Homo sapiens: one gene and its partners. The protein of the gene in region 7 purifies or fractionates together with the protein of the main gene of each other region. This does not show direct contact. Each region holds a gene or a part of one and is shown on either strand. Other genes may lie near its edges.

Region 1 (2,600 bases), on a different chromosome or scaffold from region 7:
ATGGCTTCCTCTAGAAATAATTCTGTATCTGGACTATCAGTCAAATCAAAAAATAATACCAAACAAAAGCTTCCTGTGAAAAGCCACTCAGAATGTGGAATCATAGAAAAAGCAACGTCACCAAAAGAACTGGGCTGTGACAGGCAATCCGAAGAGCAAATGAAGAATTCTGTTCAGACTCCCGTTGAAAACTCCACCAACAGTCAGCACCAGGTCAAAGAAGCTTTACCTGTGTCACTCCCCCAGATTCCTTGTCTGTCTTCCTTTAAAATCCATCAGCCATACACGTTGACTTTTGCTGAATTGGTAGAGGATTATGAACATTATATTAAAGAGGGGTTAGAGAAACCTGTGGAAATCATCAGGCACTACACAGGCCCTGGGGATCAGACTGTGAATCCTCAAAATGGTTTTGTGAGAAATAAAGTTATTGAACAGAGAGTCCCTGTGTTGGCAAGTAGTAGCCAATCTGGAGACTCTGAGAGTGACAGTGATTCTTACAGCTCAAGAACCTCTTCCCAGAGCAAAGGAAATAAGTCATACTTGGAAGGCTCTTCTGATAATCAGCTGAAAGACTCTGAATCTACGCCTGTGGATGATCGTATTTCTTTGGAACAACCACCAAATGGAAGTGACACCCCCAATCCAGAGAAATATCAAGAATCACCTGGAATCCAGATGAAGACAAGACTTAAAGAGGGGGCTAGCCAGAGAGCTAAGCAGAGCCGGAGAAACCTACCCAGGCGGTCTTCCTTCAGATTGCAGACTGAAGCCCAGGAAGATGATTGGTATGACTGTCATAGGGAAATACGTCTGAGTTTTTCTGATACCTATCAGGATTATGAGGAGTACTGGAGAGCTTACTACAGGGCATGGCAAGAATATTATGCTGCCGCTTCTCATTCATATTATTGGAATGCTCAGAGACATCCAAGTTGGATGGCAGCTTATCACATGAATACCATTTATCTACAAGAAATGATGCATAGTAACCAGTGATTATAGGATATACCTGAGACCATCAGGAACTGTCAACAAATGATACCTTTGGATATCCATCCTCCTCGACTTATAGTACAGTGGTGTATAGTGGCATTTCTGATAAACTTGAAAAGACTTGAGTCTTTCCACTGGGACACATCCATTTTTCAGATTGTTTTGATTTAGGCCAGGTATATTATCTTCATTTTTAAGAGTTTCTTTAAGAAACTTCATCAGATTGTTGAAAGATAATTTTTGGGACATAGAGCTGAAAGTTTCAGGGTGCCATTTTCTATAAGATCTTCCCAAAAGAAACATTTAAAAAGATGACATATACCACCACTTACTTAAAAACAATAAAAGCAATAGATTTGATTAGTAATATTATTGCTGTGGAGTTCTTTACAAAGGGCTTAGGCTGCATTTCCTTCTATAGAGGTGCATTCTTGTAGAAATTTGTAGCATGGTAGATCAGAAAATCCTCTTAGGTTTTAGGCAGGAAGGAATATTTAAACATTGCTTTAGATTTTCCTAAAGGTATTTGATTTGATCTGTTAGCTTCCAGTAAAAATATTTGTTTTTAGTAAAAACAAATTTAAATATATTTACATGTTTGTTGTTTATCTTTTGAATGTCTTTTGAGGCTGTGAAAGCTGTCCACATTTTTGCTGTGTATTAAATAGCTGTGGGTCATCAGTTGCTGTCTTACTTGTGTTGCTCAGATAGAGGAGCAGCTCTTAATCTTTTTTGGTTCTTGGATCCTTTTATGAATCAGCTGATAGCTATAGATTGACTTCAGGAAATTTCTCATTCCATAAGCACAGAATTGTGAGTGTAATTTCAAGGGGTTCATAGACCCTCTGAAGTTCATCTATACAGTCCAGATTAACAAGTGACCTGCTCTGCTGGTAGGCTAGGGGAAGTTCTAGCTCTTAGTTTTAAGTATTTTGTGGAAGCTGGAATTGATTCTCTTCAGACACTTCTTAGTACATCCTAATTTTGTGTCTTCTAGAAAATTTTCCCCAGTTTTTACCTCTAATGTTAGGATCCAAGAGGAGCTTGGATCTGAGCTGATGCATCTGTAAATTACGATTTAGAAAAATATAATTGGAAATTACATATTCTTTGCTTTTTTCCTCTGGAAATCCTTTTATGATTAAGCTTTTGGTTCCCAAGCCTTTCTGTGAACTGGATTTTTTATGAGAGAACCACTTGTGTAGAGAGATGTGTATTCACTTTTTAAAAGGAAAGCTCTTCTTTCCTGTGTACATACTTGTCTAGGTAGTATAAACACTTTCCCCAGGGCTGTCAGCAAACACCCACAGCCATTGTCATTTATTGTCCAACACCTACATAACACAATTCTAAAATCCTACTTAACTTGGATTCCTGTCATTTGGATTGGGCAATATTAGGCTTTTCTTACATGTGTCAGTATGTGAATTAATTAATAATGTAGATAGCAAATCCATAATTAGGTCCAGTATGTCATTAAGAAGTAGAGATTTTAATTACACATTTAAATAAGATCCTGTCATTGATATATAATTGAATTTACTTTTTCCATCCTTTCCCCCACAATACAGCCAAGTTCAGTTTGTCATTGCTGGGGGATTTTA
Region 2 (3,500 bases), on a different chromosome or scaffold from region 7:
GTGAGATGCTGCGGCAGCTGTGTGGGTGGGGGTGGTCCCTCACGTCCTCTCCCCCATTCCTCTCCTTCTTGCAAAAGGCCTGGGGGATGTAGGAGAAGAGGGGAGACGGGGAGAGATGGAGAGAGAGACAGGGAGAGACAGACACAGAGACAAGACAGGGAGAGCAGAGAGAGAAGGGGAGGTGGGGAGAGGCAGGCGGGCACAGAGACAGAGAAACAGATTATCAGAAACAGAGACACAGAGATGAGAAACACGAGGTGGAGTGGGGAGATTCAGAAAAGACAAAGAGGGAGATGGACAGAAGGGGCTGTAGGGATGCGAGCTCTGGAGGGGGACCCTCCTTTCAGGACAGCGCCCTGGCCCCCAGGTGCCCCACTCACCTTCCTGGGCGGGAACCTCAAGTGCAGCCAGGCTGGGGGACAGAGTTCCCCCCAAGCTGAGACAGGAGGGGTCTCAGGCGGCAAAATTCCTCCTCCAACTCCTGGTGGGGTGGGGGTCATGGATGAGGGGGGCCCCTTCCTTCCCCAGCCCACTCAGGGCACCCCTGGCCCGTCCCGCCCCACCTCCAGCTGCTTCATGGTCTCCTCCAAGCTGAGCAGGTTCTCCTGGATTTCCTGGGTCCGTGCTGGGCTCAGGGGGCCGCCCCCTGGGACCCCATCCCCATCTCGAGGAGGCCCCGCCCCATTGTCTTCCTCCGCCGGAAACAGAAGCTGCTTCAGGGACAGCACTGGCCAGGGGCAAGGAGGGGTGGAGTCAGGAGACCAGGGGGCTGGGCTGGGATCTGGGATGGGGGATTCCAAAGGGGATGTGTAGGGGCTGGAGGTGAAGGTGGGTGCCAGGCAAGGCTGAGCAGATGGGGTTCGGGGATCCAAAGGGAGGTGAAGAAGTGAGGCTGGGTTTAGGGTTGGGACAGGGCAGGAAGGTACTGAAGACAGAGATGTGTTCAGGAAGAGGCTAAATATAGAATCAAGCAAGGGATGGTGGCTGCAGAAGAGGGACGTGGGCACCCAGGACAGTGGTGCAGGCTGGGTGGGTTTGGAGCATTTGTTTTCTGGCAGCTGGGCGTAAGGAAATTTTTGACGTGGAGAGCCTTGTTCTAGTTGGAACAGAGGCACTGTTTGGGCTGGTGGCCACCCTGGAGGGGCAGAGCTGGGCTACCTTTCCGAAGGGCCGTGGCAGCGAGCTGGCCCTCGGGGCCTGGTCTGCAGAAGGGCAGGAGGTCACTGAGGATTCTCTCGGTCCGGGCTGGATTGGGGAACAGAGAGGGAGCTCAGATCCTGCCGGGCCTCCTGTGGATGCCTCTCTTCACCCGGCAGCCCCAACCTGGCCCCTCACCCAGCATCCCTCTGGTCTCACCATCAGCTGGAGACGTCTCTCGGCCACCATTGCCGTTCTCAGAGCTGCTGAGGAGGGGTTCTCGGGTGCTGAGGGGAGGAAGTGCTGGGTGACCCCACACCCCTGGCCCTGGGGGGCCGCAGGGGCAGGGAGACAGAGAGCTGGAGGTGGGGAGGCAGGGAGGTCCGGAGACAGAGACAGAGGTCGAGGCCGGGAGACAGGGAGACAGAGAGGCCCAGACAATGGAAGACACAGAGGCCTGGAGACAGGAGACAGACGGGGCAGTGGTGGGGTCGGCACATGCGCACACACACACACATGCATGCACATGCTGTCACACGCATGCACACATATGCATACACACACACCATACACGCACACACATGCACACGCACACATGCATGCATACACACACTATATATGCACGCACAGTCACATACTTGCGTACAGACACACATGTATGCACACACATGCATTCACACATGTGCATGCTCACACAGAGACGGTTCTGGAGTTGTGGAGGGAAGCCTGCCCCGCCTTCCGGCCCCACTCCCTGAACCTCCAGCTCTCTCCATGGCCCCCCTCACCTGCTCGGGCTGGGCCGGGGCTTAGGGCGAGAGGCAGGGGCAGGGACTTTCAGGGATCCGGCAGTCTCAGTGATGAGAGCACACCAGCTGGGGAGAAAGGCCAAATCCCTGGGCAGTCAGAGCCCCCAGACCCTATGCCAGGGCCTCCCCACAGCCCTCCTGTCCCTGGGAACCCAGAAACCTGGGCGTCCTCCACCCACACTCAGAACTCAGACCCCCCCTCACTTTTTCCGCTCCGACACAGTCTGTGCCACCAGCTCGTATATCTGGGCCTCCTGGTCCCAGGTAAAAAGGACGTAGAAGGCTTTGTGATCTGCAGGGAGAGGGGGAGATGGGGCTCAGAGCCCAGGTCCCCCCAGTGCCTGCCCCTCCCTAAGCACAAGCTGGAGAAGTCACCCACAGTGGTGGCGCTCTCAGGGCTCCCATGGCTCAACTCACCACTCACTGTCTGCTAATATCCAGGGCCCGATGTGTCCTCCTGAGCCCCACCTCTCACACCTCCTTATGGAATCGGGCATGTACCCTGGCTTACCTAACGAAACCCCTCCAGCCACTCCCACCCTCCAGCCGCTTCCAGTGTTTGTGGCCCTGGTGCAACTTCCTAGTAGTATGTTTACAAATCCCTCCTCACTGGACTCCTGGCCTTTCTTCTCCTTGTTTACACAAGACACGCCTCTGTGCAAACACCTGCAGCAGTTCCTACCTCACTTATAAACCCTCTAGGCCTGGCCCCGCCCTGCCCACCTCCACCTACTTCTCAACCTCTTTGCTAGAATGCTGGCTCCCTGGCTCTCTAGAGGGTTCTGCTCCCCACTCCACAGGCAGCTCTGCCCAAAAAAGACACCCTCTGCCCTGGGCCATGCAGTGGCTGCACTCACCGGTGGCCACCTCGCGGGTCATGGCGGAGGTGAGCCGCAGCACGGGCCGCAGCATGGTCTTGCCATCGGGCGTGGGCGTCAGTGTCCGGCTATGGGACTTGAGCAGCAGCCGCTCGTCCTGGCGCTGGAGCAGCAGCAGCAGGTCGTCCAGCAGCAGCACATGCACCTCTACGGGGCGAGCAGTGCTCACACGGCGTGCCCCCGCGCGACCCCCTCCCCGCCCTTGGCTCACTGCCCCAACACCCTGCACTAGGCAGCTGCTCTGGCACTCACCCACTGCCTTGTCCTTAGTCACCCGCCACGTCAGTGGGCCCTCGTGGACCAATTTCTTCTTGGTGATGTCCAGGTTCTGGGGCAGGAGGGGGTGATGGTTTGTGCAGGTTGGCAGGGGGTGATTGGGGTTGGTGGGGAGGGGAAGGGCAGGGCAGTGGCCGGGGATGACCACAGGCTGGGGATCATGGGATTGGCATGAGGTGGGGGACAGAGCTCTCGCTTCCTGGGTGTATTATGGGATGGGCAGGACAGGCTGGGGGCTGTATCACAGAATCCCCTGGGCCAAGGAGTAGGGGGGCGGGGGAGGCAGGAGGGTATGGTCACACCTTGAACTCGCTCAGCATAGGGTCGCTGCTCTGCCGAAGGTGGGACAAGTCCAGGCGCCGCTGATAGTCCTTGAGCCTCTGGGGCAGAGACGGGAGCATTA
Region 3 (3,500 bases), on a different chromosome or scaffold from region 7:
AGAGGCATCCTTGGAAATTGGCAGATTTGGTTTGGAATCTCAGTGAGCACTTCTTCTTTAAACTCAATGGAAGCTAAGCAGAGTTTATTAATCTAAAAACTTCTTAGACAATAGGCCTGATAATGGGGAATGAATCCCTGCTTAATTATCTCACCAGATGACTGGGTAGTGACCTAAGATACACTTTCTTCAGTTTCTGGGTAGGATTTTAGTGACTGGTTTCCCCTGGGATACATAGATAACTCTCCTGCTGCAGTCCTTACCAACTGCCAAACCCAGATCTCACCCATCTCTAGCTTCAGTAAGTTTGAGTCTCCTCCCAGCTCATCCACTTTATTCCACCAAAGAAAAATGTGAACAAAAAAGAAAGACATGAATGTTTTATCAACCAGTGGTAACTCGTCAGTTTCTCAGCCCTATGCAGGTATGCAAGCCTACGCTTATCCCCAGGCATCTGCCGTCACCTCCCAGCTGCAGCCCGTTCGGCCTTTGTACCCAGCACCGCTCTCTCAGCCTCCCCATTTCCAAGGTAGGGAGTAATTCCCTCAGTTTCTCATCTTCCGCTCTTGCTGTGCTTTCCCTCTTCTTGCTCCTCCTTCATTTTCACACCAACAGCTCTCTACTCATTGTTTCTTCTCTTTTTTAACAGCTTTGTTGAGATATAATATGTATTCCACACATTCATTCATTTTAAATGTGCAATTCAAAAGTGTTTTAGTAAATTTGCAGAGTTGTGCATTCATCACTACAATCCTATTTTAGAACATTTCCGTCATCCCCCAATGTTTCCTTGTGTCCACATTCTGTGTTTTTTTCCTTGGATTTTCTCCCCTGGCCCTTTTAATTCCTCTGTTAGAGTAGCTAGAGTTTAGAGAAAATAGTAAAAGAGCAAAACATTGGAGGAAATTGGGAGAAAGTTGAATACTATAGGTGTTTAGTATCTCTAATGAAAGCTACTCTGTTAACATTTTTAAATTATGAAAATAAGAGACTTTTATAAAAAAGTCAAGCAGTACAAAAGGGTGTAAAGTGAAGTTACTGTCCTTCCCCTCCATAAACCCCCTGACCTTGGGAAACTGTTGTTAACAGTTACTTGGGTAACTTTTCAGATATTTTGTATGCATGTACAAATGTGAGTATCTAATGTAAAAAAATCAAACCAAGATAAAGTGTAAACTGCTATGATGGAATCCTGCCTTGTTCTGCTATTAGTCTTCTGTTTAGTAATCAGCTTTGGTATTAGGACAGTGGTAGGAAGAAGCCAGTATGTCCTGCAACATAATTTGTGGTTCTGGACTGGTCAGGATTTCCTGAATGCAGCCTTTATCTGGAAGCTCTGCCCTTCTCCATCTGGGATACGCTTTTTCATCCATCAAAACTGTCATCTCCCTCTGTGAAGCCTTCCCTGACTATTCTCTGTCCCTCTTTCCTCTCTTCCCACAAACACAACTGTGTACGCGTGTCACCAAAGAGTTAATCGTGCTTTTCTCTGTGCTACTTTTATACCTAGTATATGGTCCATTGTTTTGCACTTAATACACTCTCTTGTAATGATTTGTTTACATGTCAGTCTCCCAGCCAGACTGAGAGCTCACCAAGGGCAGAAGCCGTGTTTTGTTTACTGCTGTATTCCTGGTACCTGGTACAATGCTTGGCATACAGTTGGATGAACGGGAAAGTAATCTGAGCTGCCGGTGCTGTGGCAGTGCAAAGTGGGCATATTTGTGCCCTTGGACCAGATGTAGCCCTTGATGCATTTTGCAGGAACACGGCTTAGTTATTGTTTACTTTGAAGCCCTTTTGCCTCTACTCTCTCCCATATATCTTCTCCTGACAGGGTGAAGTCACCTATAGCATTTCCTAGTGTATGGAAGTATTAATTTCTTTCTTTACTGGAAGAGCTACTAGCTTTTCTTCATACAGTTTCCTCTGCTCCAGTTTCATAAGTTTCTTTTTGGCTTGTATCTGTTTAGGATCAGGTGATATGGCTTCATTTCTCATGACTGAAGCCCGGCAACATAACACTGAAATTCGAATGGCAGTCAGCAAAGTGGCTGATAAAATGGATCATCTCATGACTAAGGTGACTGAGTCAGAGTTGGGGTGATGTTGAAAGTGGGGATGTAAACAGGGAGCAGCCAGAACTGTAGGTAAACTCTTCTTTGATTTCCTGCATTGGTAGTAGTGAGAGGTTATTTCCCTACAAGGATAGTTATAATTATGTTGGGATCCAGTTAGTAGGAGAAAACTCTAACTTAACAGTTAGAGATTGTCCCAGGAACTCATTAACCCCCTTAACAACAGGGTCAAATCTTGGGTAAATTGTATTTCTTCATTTTATAATTTCTCACAAGGTCTTTCTGGTATCCCTTTTGTAGGTTGAAGAGTTACAGAAACATAGTGCTGGCAATTCCATGCTTATTCCTAGCATGTCAGTTACAATGGAAACAAGCATGATTATGAGCAACATCCAGCGAATCATTCAGGTGAGGGTGATTAAGAACATACCACTCAGGCTGAAGGTCTTACCCATCCTCTCTTCTCAGAGGTACTACTCTTTAACACCTCCACCCCAGAAATAGCCTGTGATAAACGCTACACTGGGTTAGACAATTCTAGAAAATCCATTATGGCTTAATTCTGTCCAAGTGACTTATCACTATATATTCTGAAGGAAACATTGCTTTTTTGACCATACTTCAGAATTTCACTTCTTTTTTTAGCCATTTATTCACTCAATCCATTGGACCTAGTGATTTGTATCCATCAGGTGTAATCTGATGTGTTGTTTTAACATACATGTGGACATAAGTTCTAGTGTTTTGTCTCAAAACATGTTAACAATGTCACCTGTCAGTTCAAGTTGATTCTCTTCTATCTGGCACTTTTCTCCCAAGACACTTAAATTGTACATCATATATTTTGAAATTAGGAAAATGAAAGATTGAAGCAAGAGATCCTTGAAAAGAGCAATCGGATAGAAGAACAGAATGACAAGATTAGTGAACTAATTGAACGAAATCAGAGGTAATGACAGGTACGGGGCCTGGCTAGGATGGACAAAAGGGTTTATTATGTATATGCCCAGCTTAAGTACACGTATTTGTTTAGGGCAGTACGTATGTATTTCTGCCATTTCTGTTTCCTGCCTGTCATGTGAATTATTGCCTGTTTTCTGAGAGGCATTGCAGTAGAAGGAGCTTAGTAGGCTGTGATGTAGGGCAGACCTGTGTTTGATTCCTGCTCTGACCCTCATTCATTCTGTGGCTCTGGGCATGTTATTTATTCCTGCTGGCCCTAGTTTCTTTATCTTTAAAACTGGTATTATTACTTACAGAACTCTGGTGTCAACTCTTCTCTCTTCTGTGTGGGCTAACTCTATTTTATCCATCAGAACTCAGCCAAAACTTCACTGATTCCCATATAAGACCTAAGGATTTTGTACTTTTTGTAGATACTTCTGAAGATTTGGAGGGGTGGGTGGGGAGGATGAGTGGAAC
Region 4 (3,500 bases), on a different chromosome or scaffold from region 7:
AACGCCTGAGGAGGACCAGGTATACAGGGAAACTGGGTGCTGCCACTGCTTAAATGGAAACTTATAGTCAAGCCCTAAGAACACACTAGAGTCTTAGAATTACCCTGGGACTTGGCAGTGTTAATTGGTATTCTTGCTAAGATGGGGGATTTGTTCTTCTAATTAGGATTTCCTCCTCGATGGAAAGATAGAAGGCTCTCAGCAACCATGTAATCCAATCACCTGTTTAGAACAAAACCTGATTTTTTTAATGTAAAGTTTTTGTTGTTGTTTTGTTTTTGCTTTTGTTTTTGTTTTGAGACGGAGTCTCGCTCTGTCGCCCAGGTTCGAGTGTAATGGCATGATCTCGGCTCACTGCAACCTCCGCCTCCCAGATTCAAGTGATTCTCCTGTCTCAGCCTCCTGAGTAGCTGGGATTACAGGCATGCACCACCACGCCCAGCTAATTTTTGTATTTTTAGTAGAGATGGGGGTGTCACCATGTTGTTCAGGCTGGTCTCGAACCCGCCTCGGCCTCCTAAAGTGCTGGGATTACAGGCGTGAGCCACCGTGCCCAGCTGGAAAGTATTTTCAAACATACAGTAAAGTTAGAAGAATTTAACACTTAATACCAACATACTCAACACTTAGCACTAACACCACCTATCACTAACACTTCAGAAGTTTTTTTTTTTTTTTTGGTTCCTTCTTGAGGGCTAGAAAGCCCTTTCTCACATATTGTAAGTAAGTAGAGCAGGTATTATTATACTCATTTTACAAAGAAGGAAACCAAGGTTCTGAGCCACTTAGTAGATTCACGTACAAGTTTAGTGCCAAGCCGGTTTCCTGACCTTAGCTATAAATGGTTTTTGTCTAGTGAGCTTTAAAAATAGTAATGTTTGGGTCCCATTCCTGAGAGTTTGATTTTGATGTAATTGGTCTGTGAGGAAACTGACTAGGTATTGGAATTGGTTTTTTGTTTTTTGTGGGTTTTTTTTTGAGACAGTCTCACTCTGTCACCCAGGCTGGAGTGCAGTGGCGTGGTCTTGGCTCACTACAACCTCCGCCTCCTGGGGTCAAGTTATTCTCCTGCCTCAGCCTCCTGAGTAGCTGGGGCTATATGCACACACTACCATGCCCAGCTGATTTTTGCATTTTTAGTAGAGATGGGGTTTCGTCACGTTGGCCAGGCTGGTCTCGAACTCCTGGCCTCAACTGATCCGCCCGCCTTGGCCTCCGAAAGTACATTGGAATTTAAAAGTTCCATACATGGTCTTTATATGTGTGCAAGGCTGAGAACTCCTGCACTGGTGCTTAAAAATGGTTGTTGAATGACTGCTGAGTAATATTTTAGTATGCCTGATTTGGGTGTCTTGAGTAAGCCAGAGAGTTGGGAGAGAAGAGAAGAGTGCTTGGTATCTTGACAAACCCTCCTACCTTTTCTCCTAACTACATAGATCTTGAAAAAGCCACTACCGCCTGAGCCAGCAGCAGCACCAGTCTCCACAAGTGAGCTGAAAAAGGTTGTGGCCCTTTATGATTACATGCCAATGAATGCAAATGATCTACAGCTGCGGAAGGGTGATGAATATTTTATCTTGGAGGAAAGCAACTTACCATGGTGGAGAGCACGAGATAAAAATGGGTGAGTCCACACCAGCCCTTCCTGAGCCTGGTGCCTGCCCACTCCCTACACGCAAAAAGTGCTGCGGCATAATTCCCGTGATCAGCATCCTCATCAGAGACTGTTCTTCCCACACCAGACTGAACATGCTCTCCCTCCAAGTACTTCCCAGCGTGCAGCTCCCTATACATGGCCTCTGCCACATCTCTGAGCCTCTGTTGTTGGGCACATATAACCAATGCAACATGTGCATAAGCTCTGCACCTCACTGGCTCACTGCCTAACCATGCATCAGAGACATGATTGTCTTTGAGGGAGGTGCATGATACATATACCTCCATTTGAGATTTGTTCTGAGCTCAGGGACGTGGGCATATGAATCTGTCTCCTGGAGGCTGGGGAGGTGCTGGATGAACTGCCACATTGTTTCCTTCACAGGCAGGAAGGCTACATTCCTAGTAACTATGTCACTGAAGCAGAAGACTCCATAGAAATGTATGAGTAAGTATGTTTATGTCAGTCCACAATCTTCCAGGAGGAACTCTCTCTCTCTATATATATATATATTTATTTATTTATATATATTTTATATATATTTATATATATATATAACACACACAAGTGTATATATGTATACATATGTATACATACACTGGTGTATATATAGGTATATTATGTATACATACACAAGTGTGTATATATATATATACACTTTTTTCTACTTTCAACATATTTTTTATTTCAAGATATATATTAAAATTAGTACCATCTGAATCAAATGATGCCACCACCTCAAATTAGTGTATCTGTCTTACCTTTACCCCCCAAACACCCTCCATTTATGAGAGCTGGAGAGGTCACCATGCCCTCAAATCCAGAAGAATCACACTCAAAGAAAAAGGAGTTGACGACCTGATGAAAGAATTAAAATGTCAAACTGCTACTGTTGTCCTTTCCTCCCTAATCATGGAAGTGGATTGTTCTCAAGTGCCCTAGTCCCTGATCTCTTCCCTGCAACTCCCTGCTGCTTGCCTTTGCCTGCTACTCTCCATTTCCATGAATCTTCAATGCCAACCTGGGTTTGGGAAAGGGATACAGTGTGCTATGCACATGACAGATGCTCAGTAAATAGGGTTTGAGTGAGTTGACTGAATCACTGACATGGACAAGCCCTGGAGGGTGCTGTAACCTCCAATCTGCTTATGACCAGGAGCCACTCAAGCAGCACTCTCCCTTCACAGGTGGTATTCCAAACACATGACTCGGAGTCAGGCTGAGCAACTGCTAAAGCAAGAGGTAAGTGTGGAACCACTAGCACACAGCATTCTCCTTGCATAAGTGAGGATCTTGAACTGAGGGCCTGTTCTGCCCCCTACCTTTGGGCAAGGCAGTGTCAAAGCTGCCATCGTCTGGGATCCCAATTACACCATTTTTTTTGTTTTTGTTTTTCTGAGACGGACTCTCGGTCTGTCACCCAGGCTGGAGTGCAGTGGCGTGATCTGGGCTCACTGCAACCTCCGCCTTCTGGGTTCAAGTAATTCTCCTACCTCAGCCTCCCAAGTAGCTGGGATTACAGGCACATGCCACCACGCCCGACTAATTTTTGTATTTTTAGCAGAGACGGGGTTTCACCATGTTGGCCAGGCTGGTCTCGAACTCCTGACCTCAGGTGATCCGCCCACCTCGGCCTCCCAAAATGCTGGGATTACAGGCATGAGCCACCATGCCCGGCCTGCACCTTTTAATATTAAAAGCAATGAGGCTGTAGCTCAAGCGTGGAACTTGGCAGTAAAATCAGGGGTTGTTCTATTTTCTCTCTCAAGTTTGGGCAGGTGGGATGCAGGTGTGAGCACCACTTCCTCCTACAGACAGCTTCTTTTTCGTTGTTTCAGGGGAA
Region 5 (3,500 bases), on a different chromosome or scaffold from region 7:
GTGACCCAACAAACAGAGCAAATTTTAATTTTAAGCCTGTTATTATAGTTCCTATATACCTACAATTTTTAAATTAATGGAAATGGCTTTCAGGGCAAGGGTCACCATGGCAGCCACCTTGGTTAGGCTTGGGCTCTTGTCTGTCAAGCAGGTTCAGGTTCAATTCTACCCCTTTGAGAAGTAGAGATGATGAGGACCTTCCTCTAGATGATGAGTAATGAGAAGGTCCACTCCACCAATCTCAACTGCTCAGCTATTGTGGACATGAGGTGGACATGCAGCATAATGACTTCGAGCCCTGTGTGGACATGCTGTTCAGAGATGCTGTGTGGTCATCGCCTCATTATGTGCTGCACCCATCTCACCACTCTGGAAATGCTCACTGTCTTTGCCTCCCACATTGAGGCCAGAGATGTGGCAAGGAGCCAAGAATGTGCTGGTACTGGACAATGACAGTGCCAAAAAGACCAACAAGCTGATGTTAGACTGGACTAGAACACTTATCTAAAAAGAGGTTTACTTAATCATTCAAATCACTATCTGGAGGGCCACAGAGTAAGGCCCTCTAAATGCTTGGCAAGACCAAGATATCATAATTAGGAAGCTTACTTATGGGGGTGGGAAGCTGAAAGTCCTGTGAACACAATGTTTCTGGGTCAAGGCAAGATTATGGGGGTGTCTGGATGAACCTGAATTTATTTTACTTTCTTATGTCAATCACTGCTTATCCCTTCCAGTATGACTTCTCCCAGTGCTCACTCGAGGTACCTCTTCACTCTTATTTACCAAATCCAGTTGGAAAGAATACTGTCAGAGTGAGTGCTGTTTTCTCCGTCCTAATCTTTCTATCTCAGTAGCATTTGCCACTCTTAATTCATTCATGCCTTGGAAACTTTTTCCCTCTTGGGTCCTTTTTCTTTAAAACACACACCTGGGTGTGTGTTTTAATCTGATCGCTAAAGGAGAGTACTTCTAGCTGGTGAAGGAAATACTTTCATTAGGGGCTTTGCAAGGCTCCAAGTATATATATACACCATCATTTTGGTAACCATAAGGCTTTGCAGTTTATGGGATCTATTAGGAAGATGCTCCCAGAGGGGTCAAATGTTCCCAGCAGTGGCATGGCAGAGCACCAATGATGGCAGATGCTCAGATAGAAGGAATGCACAGAGGCACCCAAACTGTGGACATACTCTTGAATACAAGAAACACCTAGAGACTAACAGAAATAATTGTAGGGGAAGGGGTGTTTTACAGGAGATGAAGGGGTGTGAACTGGAGAGATATGAGAATTAATGAAGTTGTGTTCTCTTTCATACCAATAGGCTGTGCATACACTGTGTGCTTGGCACTATGCTAGGCACTAGATAAAGAGACATGGTTTCAATTATCAAGGAACTCAGTCTTGTAATCAGGGCAAATGTAGGAAAGCAGACAATGAATAGAACCTCCCAGAACATTTTTGTGTTTCAATTTTTAAAGTAGAGATTTTTCATTAGAGTTTGAAATAGTTAATTAAATTTTCTTGGGCTGGTTTGATCCAATTCCTCCCTACTTCTCTATTTTAGATGGAAATTGAGGCCCACCCATAGAGGTTAAGTGAGGTTTCCAAAATCAGTGACAAGGTGGCTAGAAGCACGAAAGGGAAAGGCCATATCTAACACTCACAATCACTCTTTTCCATTACATCATAATACCTCTTTTTTTTTTTTTTTTTTTTTTTTTTGATGGAGTTTTGCTCTGTTGCCCAGGCTGGAGTGCAATGGCGCGATCTCGGCTCACTGCAACCTCCGCCTCCTGGGTTCAAGCTATTCTCCTGCCTCAGCCTCCTGAGTAGCTGGGATTACAGACATGCACCACCACACCTGGCTAATTTTGTATTTTTAATAGAGACAGGGTTTCACCGTGTTGGTCAGGCTGGTCTCTAACTCCTGACCTCAGATGATCTGACCGCCTTGGCCTCCCAAAGTACTGGGATTACGAGCGTGAGCCATCATGCCCAGCCCATAATACCTCATTTATAATCCACTAAATGGATGTCTCTACTCTGGTTTTTCATTCATACCTATATGGAAAAGAAAAGTATAGTGAAAAAAGCATGGCTACATAATCAGAAAAACCTGGGATCTGAATTTTCTGACAAATTTACACTACTTTGTTTAGCATTAAGCCTGGTCGTAATAAAACAGCTAAGTGTTCTGGAAGAAATTATGATAAATCAGTACTACTAACAAGACTGGACATGTGAGTTTGCACCTGCTTATTAGGCTTTATGCTCCTGTCCTAGGATTTCTTTTTCTTTTCTTTTTTCTTTTTTTTTTTTTTTGAGATGGAGTCTTGCTCTGTCACCCAGGCTGGAGTGCAGTGGCACAATCTCGGCTCACTGCAAACTCTGCCTCCCGGGTTCACACCATTCTCCTGCCTCAGCCTCCCGATTAGCTGGGACTACAGGCACCTGCCACCACGCCCGGCTAATTTTTTTGTATTTTTAGTAGAGACGGTGTTTCACTGCGTTAGCCAGGATCTCGATCTCCTGAGGTCAGGTCTCGATCTCCTGACCTCGTGATCCACCCGCCTCGGCCTCCCAAAGTGCTGGGATTACAGGCATGAACCACCGCGCCCGGGCTTTCTTTTCTTTTTTTTTTTTTTTGAGACGGAGTTTCGCTCCTGTTGCCCAGGCTGGAGTGCAATGGCGTGATCTCGGGTCACCGCAACCTCCGCCTCCCAGGTTCCAGCGATTCTCCTGCCTCAGCCTACTGAGTAGCTGGGATTACAGGCATGTGCCACTGCGCCCAGCTAATTTTTGTATTTTTAGTAGAGATGGGGTTTCTCCATGTTGGTCAGGCTGGTCTCAAACTCCCGACCTCAGATGATGCACCTGCCTCGGCCTCCCAGAGTGTTGGGGTCACAGGCGTGAGCCACTGGGCCCGGCCTGTCCTAGGATGTCTTAACAGATTATATGAATACCTCTCAGCAAAACTAACTGAAAAGTGAAGATGGAAGAATGACAGTTTTAATATTAATTGATGACTTGTTAGAAAACAGCCACACCAAACAATCTTTAGGGCTTGCTTTATCCTACAATGGTAACTAGTAAATTAAGGAGGTAATACATAATCAAGGATCCAGTTTAAAAGCATAAATATTTGGCAGGTGCAGTGACTCACGCCTGCAATCTCGGCACTTTGGGAGGCCAAGGCAGGCGGATCACGAGGTCAGGAGTTTGAGACTAGCCTGACCAACATATTGAAACCCTGTCTCTACTAAAAATACAAAAAATTAGCCGGGTGTGGTGGCAGGTGCCTGTAATCCCAGCTACTTGGGATGCTGAGGCAGGAGAATCACTTGAACTCAGGAGGTGGAGGTTGCAGTGAGCCGAGATCGTACCACTGCACTCCAGCCCGCTGGGAGACAGTGCAAGACTTCGTTTCAAAAAAAAAAAAAAAAAGTATAAAATATTTTTCATGTGCTCTAACAAAGCCCTCATATTTCATCTATTT
Region 6 (3,500 bases), on a different chromosome or scaffold from region 7:
TATCAGAGAGACAACTGTAATAGAAAACTCAATGTTTATTTTAGTATATTTATGTATATATGTTCTATTATTTTAAACAGCCTGTAAACCTAAGCCTCTCCTCTTATCTAAAAATCATCCGTCCTCCTCTCATTGCCTTTGCATTTTCACTAAACTCCCCTCTGTGTATTTATCTTGCTTTTTAGGTATTTACTTGTGTGAGTAGTTTATGTTTTTTCATATGTCCTGAGCTCTCTGCCTTACCCACCATGCCTTGACTATAAAGAAATGATAGCTAACTTTGGCCAGGTGTGGTGGTTCACGCCTGTAATCCCAGCACTTTGCAAGGCCGAGGCAGGTGGATCATAAGGTCAGGAGATCGAGACCATCCTGGCCAACATGGTGAAACCCCGTATCTACTAAAAAAAATATAAAAATTAGCTGGGCATGGTGGCGTGTGCCTGAAGTCCCAGCTACTCGGGACGCTGAGGCAGGGGAATTGCTTGAACCCAGGAGGCAGAGTTTGCAGTGAGCCGAGATCGTGCCACTACACTCCAGCCTGGCAAGAGAGCGAGACTCCATCTCAAAAAAAAAAAAAAAAGAATTGATAGCTAACATTAATTGAGCTCTTGCTATGTTCCAGATGCATTAAAAGCTTTTTAACATATTAATCCCTTTCATCTTTAAGCCAGATGAAATGGGTACCACTGTAATCTTCACTGTATAGAGGAGGAAACAGAAACTCAGAACAGTGAAGCAATCTGAGTAGAGTCACACAGCCTCTAAGTGGCCGAAGCCAAAATCTAAACCTGGGTTAAGAGCCACCGAACACATGAGCATCACCCACATCTGGAGAACTTCAGTGCATACATTTTCCCCATGCTTGATTTTCAAATCACCAAGTACTTTTAATTAACCTTCACTATTGTTATGATTTGACATTTGTTGTTCTATATATACAACTAATATCTGCCCCATACCATGCCAGAACATAAGAATACAACACCTAGTATTTTATAGATGAGTAATAGCAGCTGCCATTTATTAAGCTTTTGCCATGTGCCAGGCACTGCATCTTATTATTTAATACTCAGAAAGATCTATGGGGTACCTACCAATTTATTTCCACTTTAGAGATGAGGAAAGTGAGGCAGAGAGAGGTTAGATGACTTGCCCAAGATCACACAGCTAGTAAATGGTGAAGCCAGGATTTAAACTCAATGGCTGAACTCCAAAGCTTGGCTCTGAATGAGTGAAGAGATGTGTTCCTAGAAATCTAGCTTGGAGAGTCAAGAAAAGTAATAGGGAGGAGATGACATTTGACATATCTGGAAGGGCAAAGTGGGAAAGAAAGGAAACAATACACTCAAGGGAGACAACAACATGGATAAAGTACTGAGGAATGGTGTACCTGCAGCATAACAGGTGCTCAAAAATGCAAATGAAAAAAATGAATATCTTTATAGCCCATGAGTTAAAAGGTTTTCCACATCTAAGTGTTGTATGACTAGTGCTCTCTGTGTGTTTCTTTCAGTGCCACCGTGGGCCTTAATTGCAATAGCCATAGTCGCAGTCCTTTTAGTCCTGACCTGCTGCTTTTGTATCTGTAAGAAATGTTTGTTCAAAAAGAAAAACAAGAAGAAGGGAAAGGAAAAAGGAGGGAAGAATGCCATTAACATGAAAGATGTAAAAGACTTAGGGAAGACGATGAAAGATCAGGTAATGTATTCTTTCTACATTTCTTCTTATTTTGTTTAAAAAAGATAAACAAATGTATTATTTTATGCCATATAATTACAGAAATAAACAACTTCTGGACCCATATCGTTTTTGAGATGCTTTGCAAACCTTTCAGTCATTGTTCAAGATCCCAAAGCATAATGGAAGCATTTGGCAGGGTTTTCCAATCTCCTGAGCATATAGAACAGAAAAGGGCATCCATGATCATCAGGCCCATCTTGATGGGTTTGGCATATGAGAATGATGCCTGAATATTTTGATTACATCTGTTTAACCAGTCTTCATTGCGTTTAGAGTTAGAAAAATCAGATAAAAAGTGCCTGAGTGTTTTGCATTTGGGCAGGGGATCTTTCTAATTTCTACTGTTCATAGTCACTGTTAAATAACTGAGTTTTACGGCTGTTCATCAAACTGGATGAAAGCTGCTTTTCCTACATGTCCATCCAGCTGAAAAATTAATTCTCAAGAATAATGAGTTACATGGGAGAAGGGAGAGAAATATGAGCCAGTTCTAAAGAACACGACAGGATAGAATTTTTGCCTTATGAAAAAGTTTTCTTTCTTATTTCTTATAAGACAAAATTCTCATTTCAATTTAATAAGGACAATTACAACCATAACACTGGTTATAAAATCCATCTGGCTGGGTTATCTTTCCAAGCCCAAAAAAGCTATTTGGATGTTCTTTATGTTGCTATCTGTTTTTGGCTAAATTAATTGGACAACTTGGTTCAAGATAATGTTTACTATTATTAATGATAATTATTAAATGCCTCTTCATTTTTGAAATAATATCCATGTTGAATATCTCTAAAGAATATTTAATTCATATTTTAAAATTAAAATGTAAATGTACAGATTTTTTATAGAATTAACATTTTCAATTATCAATGTTTTCATCAAATACAAAAGTTTTATTTATTCCCAAATAGCAAAATATATAAGCAGTTTTATAAATTCCTCTTATACTATTAATTACTATTAATCAAACTCTTAAACCTGAATCTCCTTAAGAACAATTTAATCAGGTGTTACAACAGGCATTTTAAGTACATTTGCGTTGTTTCCTAGTTCATTACACATTCAGGGACATTAACTCCCCTTCCCAGCTTCAGTTTTAAACTCTTTTTCCTCAAAGACACTATAGTATCTATTGATAATAATTTCACAAAGGCTCATGTTTTACTCCCTGCATTTTTGTTCTGTTTTGGAGCTATGGAATGGATGAAATGCCTGTACTCATACTCAGAGAGTTTTGGCCTGAGCTCGGAGTAGCAAGGGTTTGATTTTTCTGGCAATTTCTAATCACAGTCACAAAAGCCAATGCATAAACGTTCAACTACAGGTGTCTAATAAAGATTTTTCTCTTCAGTTAATTTAAGTAGAAACTAAAATTTCCAGGCATGTCTTACTTTATTTCCACACTTTTCATAGCAAGCAGGACTTGATAAAGATTTCTTTAAACAACTTATTGGGAGATTAAGTGTGGAAATAACCTCCTAGATGGACATGGACTGAATAATATGTATGTTAATTTTATCAATATTGTGAAAACAATAATTTGACAATAGATCACTATCTTTTTCATAATTATCATAAAATTTGAATGTGGTTTCCCTGTGTTCTAGAACTAATTAAAATTACTGAATAATGTTAAGTGATAACGATAGCATTTCTTCCTAGGACAATAAATCTATAATATTTGTGGGATTTGTTCTGTATGATGTAAAATTATAATTTACAGCATAGTGGTGGTGTTTATTACCCCTGTTATGACCTGG
Region 7 (3,500 bases):
ATTTTTTAAAGAGGTAGGGTCTCTCTGTGTTGCCCAGGATAGCCTCTAACTCCTGGGCTCAAGTGATCCTCCTGCCTCAGCCTCCTGTGTAGCTGGGACTACAAGCATGTACGCCATGCCTGGCTTCTTTCTTTTATTTTTATCCCTCATTTTGAAAATATTTTTACAATTTAGTTAATATTCTTATATGAGATCTGCTCAGGGATTTTTTATTCCCTTCAAGAGGAAGGGACACTTTGATAGGCTATTGCTATTGTGAACTGGACTATTAAAATGCTTACTTTAAAAGCTTTTCCTGTTGTACTTATTATCCCACAAAATATTATTTTTATTTTACAATCTAACATGTGACCAGATTCAGTTATTTACTTGAGAAGAATTGAGCATGGATTTTGGTATAGCAAATACTGAGTTTTAAATTTTCACTCTGGTTATGAATAAATGATTTTTTTTTAACAGATCAAGAAGTTGGTATATGTTTACCTGGTTCGATATGCTGAAGAACAGCAGGATCTTGCACTCCTGTCCATAAGCACTTTTCAGCGAGCTCTGAAGGTAAATAATGGAGTGAGTAGGCAAATAGCTACAAGGTTTCTGCAGAGTTGAAAGTGTGTCAGTTAAAGAAGTGGAGCGATAATCCACTAAATAGCACAGTAGTGTCTTGAAAGAGTTAAAAGCCTCCTATAGTGCCTACTCAGTACACTTAGAAAATAATTTATACAACCAACTGAAACCTTGCTGTATATGTTACAGCTTCTGTATGTTTGTTTATATTCAATATAATTATTTTCATGCTTCAAAGAGCTGTTTATCATTATACTAGTTGTTGAAAGTACGCAAAAGGGGTTATAAGACATTTTTAAACATGAAATTGATGACCTGCAGCATTTTATTATTATGAAAGTATAAAAACCCAGCATATTTAGTAATAAATGACCAACTAGAATTATAACTATTACTTTTCTTTAAAACATTATTAAAGAAGTAAACATTTATGTCTGTCTTTTTTTCCCATTCCTATATACTAATTGTTCATTTTAAATTAAGTAGCTTTCTTTTGCTATTGTCATATTACACCCTTTAAGCACCTATTAACTGTGTCTGAAAGATATGTTTAAAATATTGTAAAGTTGAAATTTTGGTGAATATTTTTGCACTATTTTTAGGACCCAAACCAACTAATTCGTGCAAGCGCTTTGAGAGTTCTGTCAAGTATTAGAGTGCCAATTATTGTACCTATCATGATGCTTGCTATTAAGGAAGCTTCTGCTGACTTATCACCATATGTTAGGAAGAATGCAGCCCATGCAATACAAAAATTATACAGGTAGGTGCATTGTTAACAATATACCAAAGATCTCTGATGTTACATGGAATGTTATAGACCACAGAGGCTTGTTTTATTCGCTCTTTTAGGTAGGCTGCTCTTACACTAAGTAAATCCAGTGACTGTATGATGGTATTTCCCCCTGCTGCAAATGTTCCTTACACATCTTTAATTTCGTTTTGGCTATAGAGACCCTATGCAGGTTTTTATTTGTGAGGCTGTTAGAGCCTGTGATAATTTATAGATTTTATAACTTAAGAATAATCAGAATTTGAATTCTCATTTATATAGTCTATCTCATGTACACATATGCTTGTATTATTAGAAAATTGAGATTTTTTTTTCCTGTTTAGGGTAGAATCTTAAGTGTCTGATCCTCTCAACTCACTTATATGTGTTTTCCTTTCTTCCATCTTTGTTCCTGCTGCTCCCTTCGTTGTCTAATTCTTTTCCAGAGCTATTTTATTAAGTAATTTTAAAAAGTGTAGTGATTTGAAATATAGTGTGCTATACCATATCTGTGTGATATTTTAGAAATGTTATGCAATATTATACAATGCCCTGATCTCTGTGGAAAATTTACTGTCCAAATAGAATTGTCTACAACAATTTGGTATTATTTTCAGCTATCATTTATTCCTCAAGCTTTTTGAGACTCTCTTCTGTTTCTGGTGTTGTATTCACAGTATTGTGCTATGTGTATTTAGATGTATGAAAACAGTAGAGGATGTGGCACTTAATTATGAATAGCATATCATGTATTTGAGGAAGAAGATCAAAGACATACCAAATAATTAAAGGCAATCTATAATGAATAAGATATTAGCACTTGATATATATGTATATACAAAGGTACACTAGCAATGTCTTTGATAGGACAGGGACCAGAGATGATCATATTTTGTTACCGGAAAGTAAAGATGTAATGAGATGGGATTGGTAGTGAAATACTGCTTTGAGAAGGAAGACTTAAGCTGAAATTTGAAAGAATTAAAAAGTTTGTCCAGATAATTATAATGTTTAGTAATAAATGTGTATGTTTGTAGAAAGTGAAACCTCATATTCCTATGTTAACTGCCAGACAAGGTTTTATCATGCTTCTCACTCACCTTTTCTCCTTAGAAACTTATGGGATAAGATCCATGCTCACTCTAACGGCTTAAAAGTCCTTCTATCATTGGGCACCAGTATATTCCAGCCTCAATGCTTGCCTCTCCTTGCCTTGAGCTTATAGTCTGTTAGTATTCTATCTCAAATGTTTTAAGCTTATTACTACCTCTTATTTTTCCTAGTTTTAGTTGGCAGATTTTATAATGCATGTCTCTATCAGTGAACTAGTATGATATAAAATTCTTATTTGGAAATTCTCCATATTTGTTTTTGGGAAGTATGTATGCATAGTAAAATAATGACTGCTATCTAGTTATTTTTTTCCTCCCAGTTGAAAAGAGTTTGTGGTTTATCTACTTACAGTCGCTTTCTTGAAGTTTTCCAACTCTTTTAGAAGTGAACTTGTTCTTTCAGTACTATCTTAACTAAACCATTGATATCTGGTTTAGTTAATATGAACAATATTAGAGGGAAAGATGAGGACACATTCATGAGAAAAACCATCCCATTTTATTTGTTTTTCTTTATTTCTAACTTATAATTCTTGCTCTCCTTTCCCTCTTTAAAAATTTCTCAACATCCTTGAATTGGTGAGCATCATGTAAAGCTAGAATTAAAGGGAAAAATTAATATGTTATTTTTGTATTTTTTAGCCTTGATCCAGAGCAGAAGGAAATGTTAATTGAAGTAATTGAAAAACTTCTGAAAGATAAAAGCACAGTAAGTAATGTCTTTTTACGTCTTTGACATAAAAATGTACTTTATTTACATAGTATCATTTACCATTATATATTTTATATAGTTGTATTTATTGATTTCAAAATGGTATAAATATTAATGGCACACAGGACTATTTTTAAAGAACAAAAATTTTCATGTAATGAGAAAGACTGCATTTGGAGTTTTAGATCGTTATGTGTTTCTTCATCAGAATCTGAAAAAAGGCAAGTTGAGAAAAAAATCTTTAACCTGTGGCTAAGTGGTTAACATGGTAAGATCAAGGAATAGAGGTGACCTATGGGGGATGTGAGTTACTAGTGTACTAGTATCTTAGATGGGGCTT

The links.
Region 1: the proteins of AP3B1 (region 7) and DDX20 purify together in Homo sapiens (affinity purification with mass spectrometry, with the first as the bait; one large-scale study listed by BioGRID). This does not show direct contact.
Region 2: the proteins of AP3B1 (region 7) and ARHGEF1 fractionate together in Homo sapiens (co-fractionation; one large-scale study listed by BioGRID). This does not show direct contact.
Region 3: the proteins of AP3B1 (region 7) and FKBP15 fractionate together in Homo sapiens (co-fractionation; one large-scale study listed by BioGRID). This does not show direct contact.
Region 4: the proteins of AP3B1 (region 7) and BTK purify together in Homo sapiens (co-immunoprecipitation; one large-scale study listed by IntAct). This does not show direct contact.
Region 5: the proteins of AP3B1 (region 7) and CAPZA1 fractionate together in Homo sapiens (co-fractionation; one large-scale study listed by BioGRID). This does not show direct contact.
Region 6: the proteins of AP3B1 (region 7) and SYT1 purify together in Homo sapiens (co-immunoprecipitation; one large-scale study listed by IntAct). This does not show direct contact.

Annotation. Positions count from the first base shown.
Region 1 is NC_000001.11:111,765,901-111,768,500, forward strand, and holds the end of DDX20 (probable ATP-dependent RNA helicase DDX20), read left to right. Parts: coding exon 1-999; 3' UTR 1,000-2,100; downstream 2,101-2,600.
Region 2 is NC_000019.10:41,903,684-41,907,183, reverse strand, and holds part of ARHGEF1 (rho guanine nucleotide exchange factor 1), read right to left. Parts: exon of another isoform or gene 3,478-3,500; coding exon 3,400-3,477; exon of another isoform or gene 3,398-3,399; intron 3,150-3,397; coding exon 3,074-3,149; intron 2,969-3,073; coding exon 2,801-2,968; intron 2,236-2,800; coding exon 2,148-2,235; intron 2,010-2,147; coding exon 1,923-2,009; intron 1,425-1,922; coding exon 1,357-1,424; intron 1,246-1,356; coding exon 1,159-1,245; intron 728-1,158; coding exon 564-727; intron 482-563; coding exon 398-481; coding exon of another isoform or gene 381-397; exon of another isoform or gene 376-380; intron 80-375; coding exon of another isoform or gene 1-79. UniProt on the Homo sapiens protein: Seems to play a role in the regulation of RhoA GTPase by guanine nucleotide-binding alpha-12 (GNA12) and alpha-13 (GNA13) subunits. Acts as a GTPase-activating protein (GAP) for GNA12 and GNA13, and as guanine nucleotide exchange factor (GEF) for RhoA GTPase.
Region 3 is NC_000009.12:113,183,278-113,186,777, reverse strand, and holds part of FKBP15 (FK506-binding protein 15), read left to right. Parts: intron 1-414; coding exon 415-529; intron 530-1,973; coding exon 1,974-2,083; intron 2,084-2,378; coding exon 2,379-2,486; intron 2,487-2,932; coding exon 2,933-3,027; intron 3,028-3,500. UniProt on the Homo sapiens protein: May be involved in the cytoskeletal organization of neuronal growth cones. Seems to be inactive as a PPIase. Involved in the transport of early endosomes at the level of transition between microfilament-based and microtubule-based movement.
Region 4 is NC_000023.11:101,358,692-101,362,191, reverse strand, and holds part of BTK (tyrosine-protein kinase BTK), read left to right. Parts: coding exon 1-19; intron 20-1,436; coding exon 1,437-1,624; intron 1,625-2,041; coding exon 2,042-2,104; intron 2,105-2,844; coding exon 2,845-2,899; intron 2,900-3,495; coding exon 3,496-3,500. UniProt on the Homo sapiens protein: Non-receptor tyrosine kinase indispensable for B lymphocyte development, differentiation and signaling. Binding of antigen to the B-cell antigen receptor (BCR) triggers signaling that ultimately leads to B-cell activation.
Region 5 is NC_000001.11:112,622,832-112,626,331, reverse strand, and holds part of CAPZA1 (F-actin-capping protein subunit alpha-1), read right to left. Parts: intron 1-3,500. UniProt on the Homo sapiens protein: F-actin-capping proteins bind in a Ca(2+)-independent manner to the fast growing ends of actin filaments (barbed end) thereby blocking the exchange of subunits at these ends.
Region 6 is NC_000012.12:79,284,274-79,287,773, forward strand, and holds part of SYT1 (synaptotagmin-1), read left to right. Parts: intron 1-1,513; coding exon 1,514-1,698; intron 1,699-3,500. UniProt on the Homo sapiens protein: Calcium sensor that participates in triggering neurotransmitter release at the synapse. May have a regulatory role in the membrane interactions during trafficking of synaptic vesicles at the active zone of the synapse.
Region 7 is NC_000005.10:78,225,199-78,228,698, reverse strand, and holds part of AP3B1 (AP-3 complex subunit beta-1), read left to right. Parts: intron 1-459; coding exon 460-555; intron 556-1,166; coding exon 1,167-1,327; intron 1,328-3,090; coding exon 3,091-3,157; intron 3,158-3,500. UniProt on the Homo sapiens protein: Subunit of non-clathrin- and clathrin-associated adaptor protein complex 3 (AP-3) that plays a role in protein sorting in the late-Golgi/trans-Golgi network (TGN) and/or endosomes.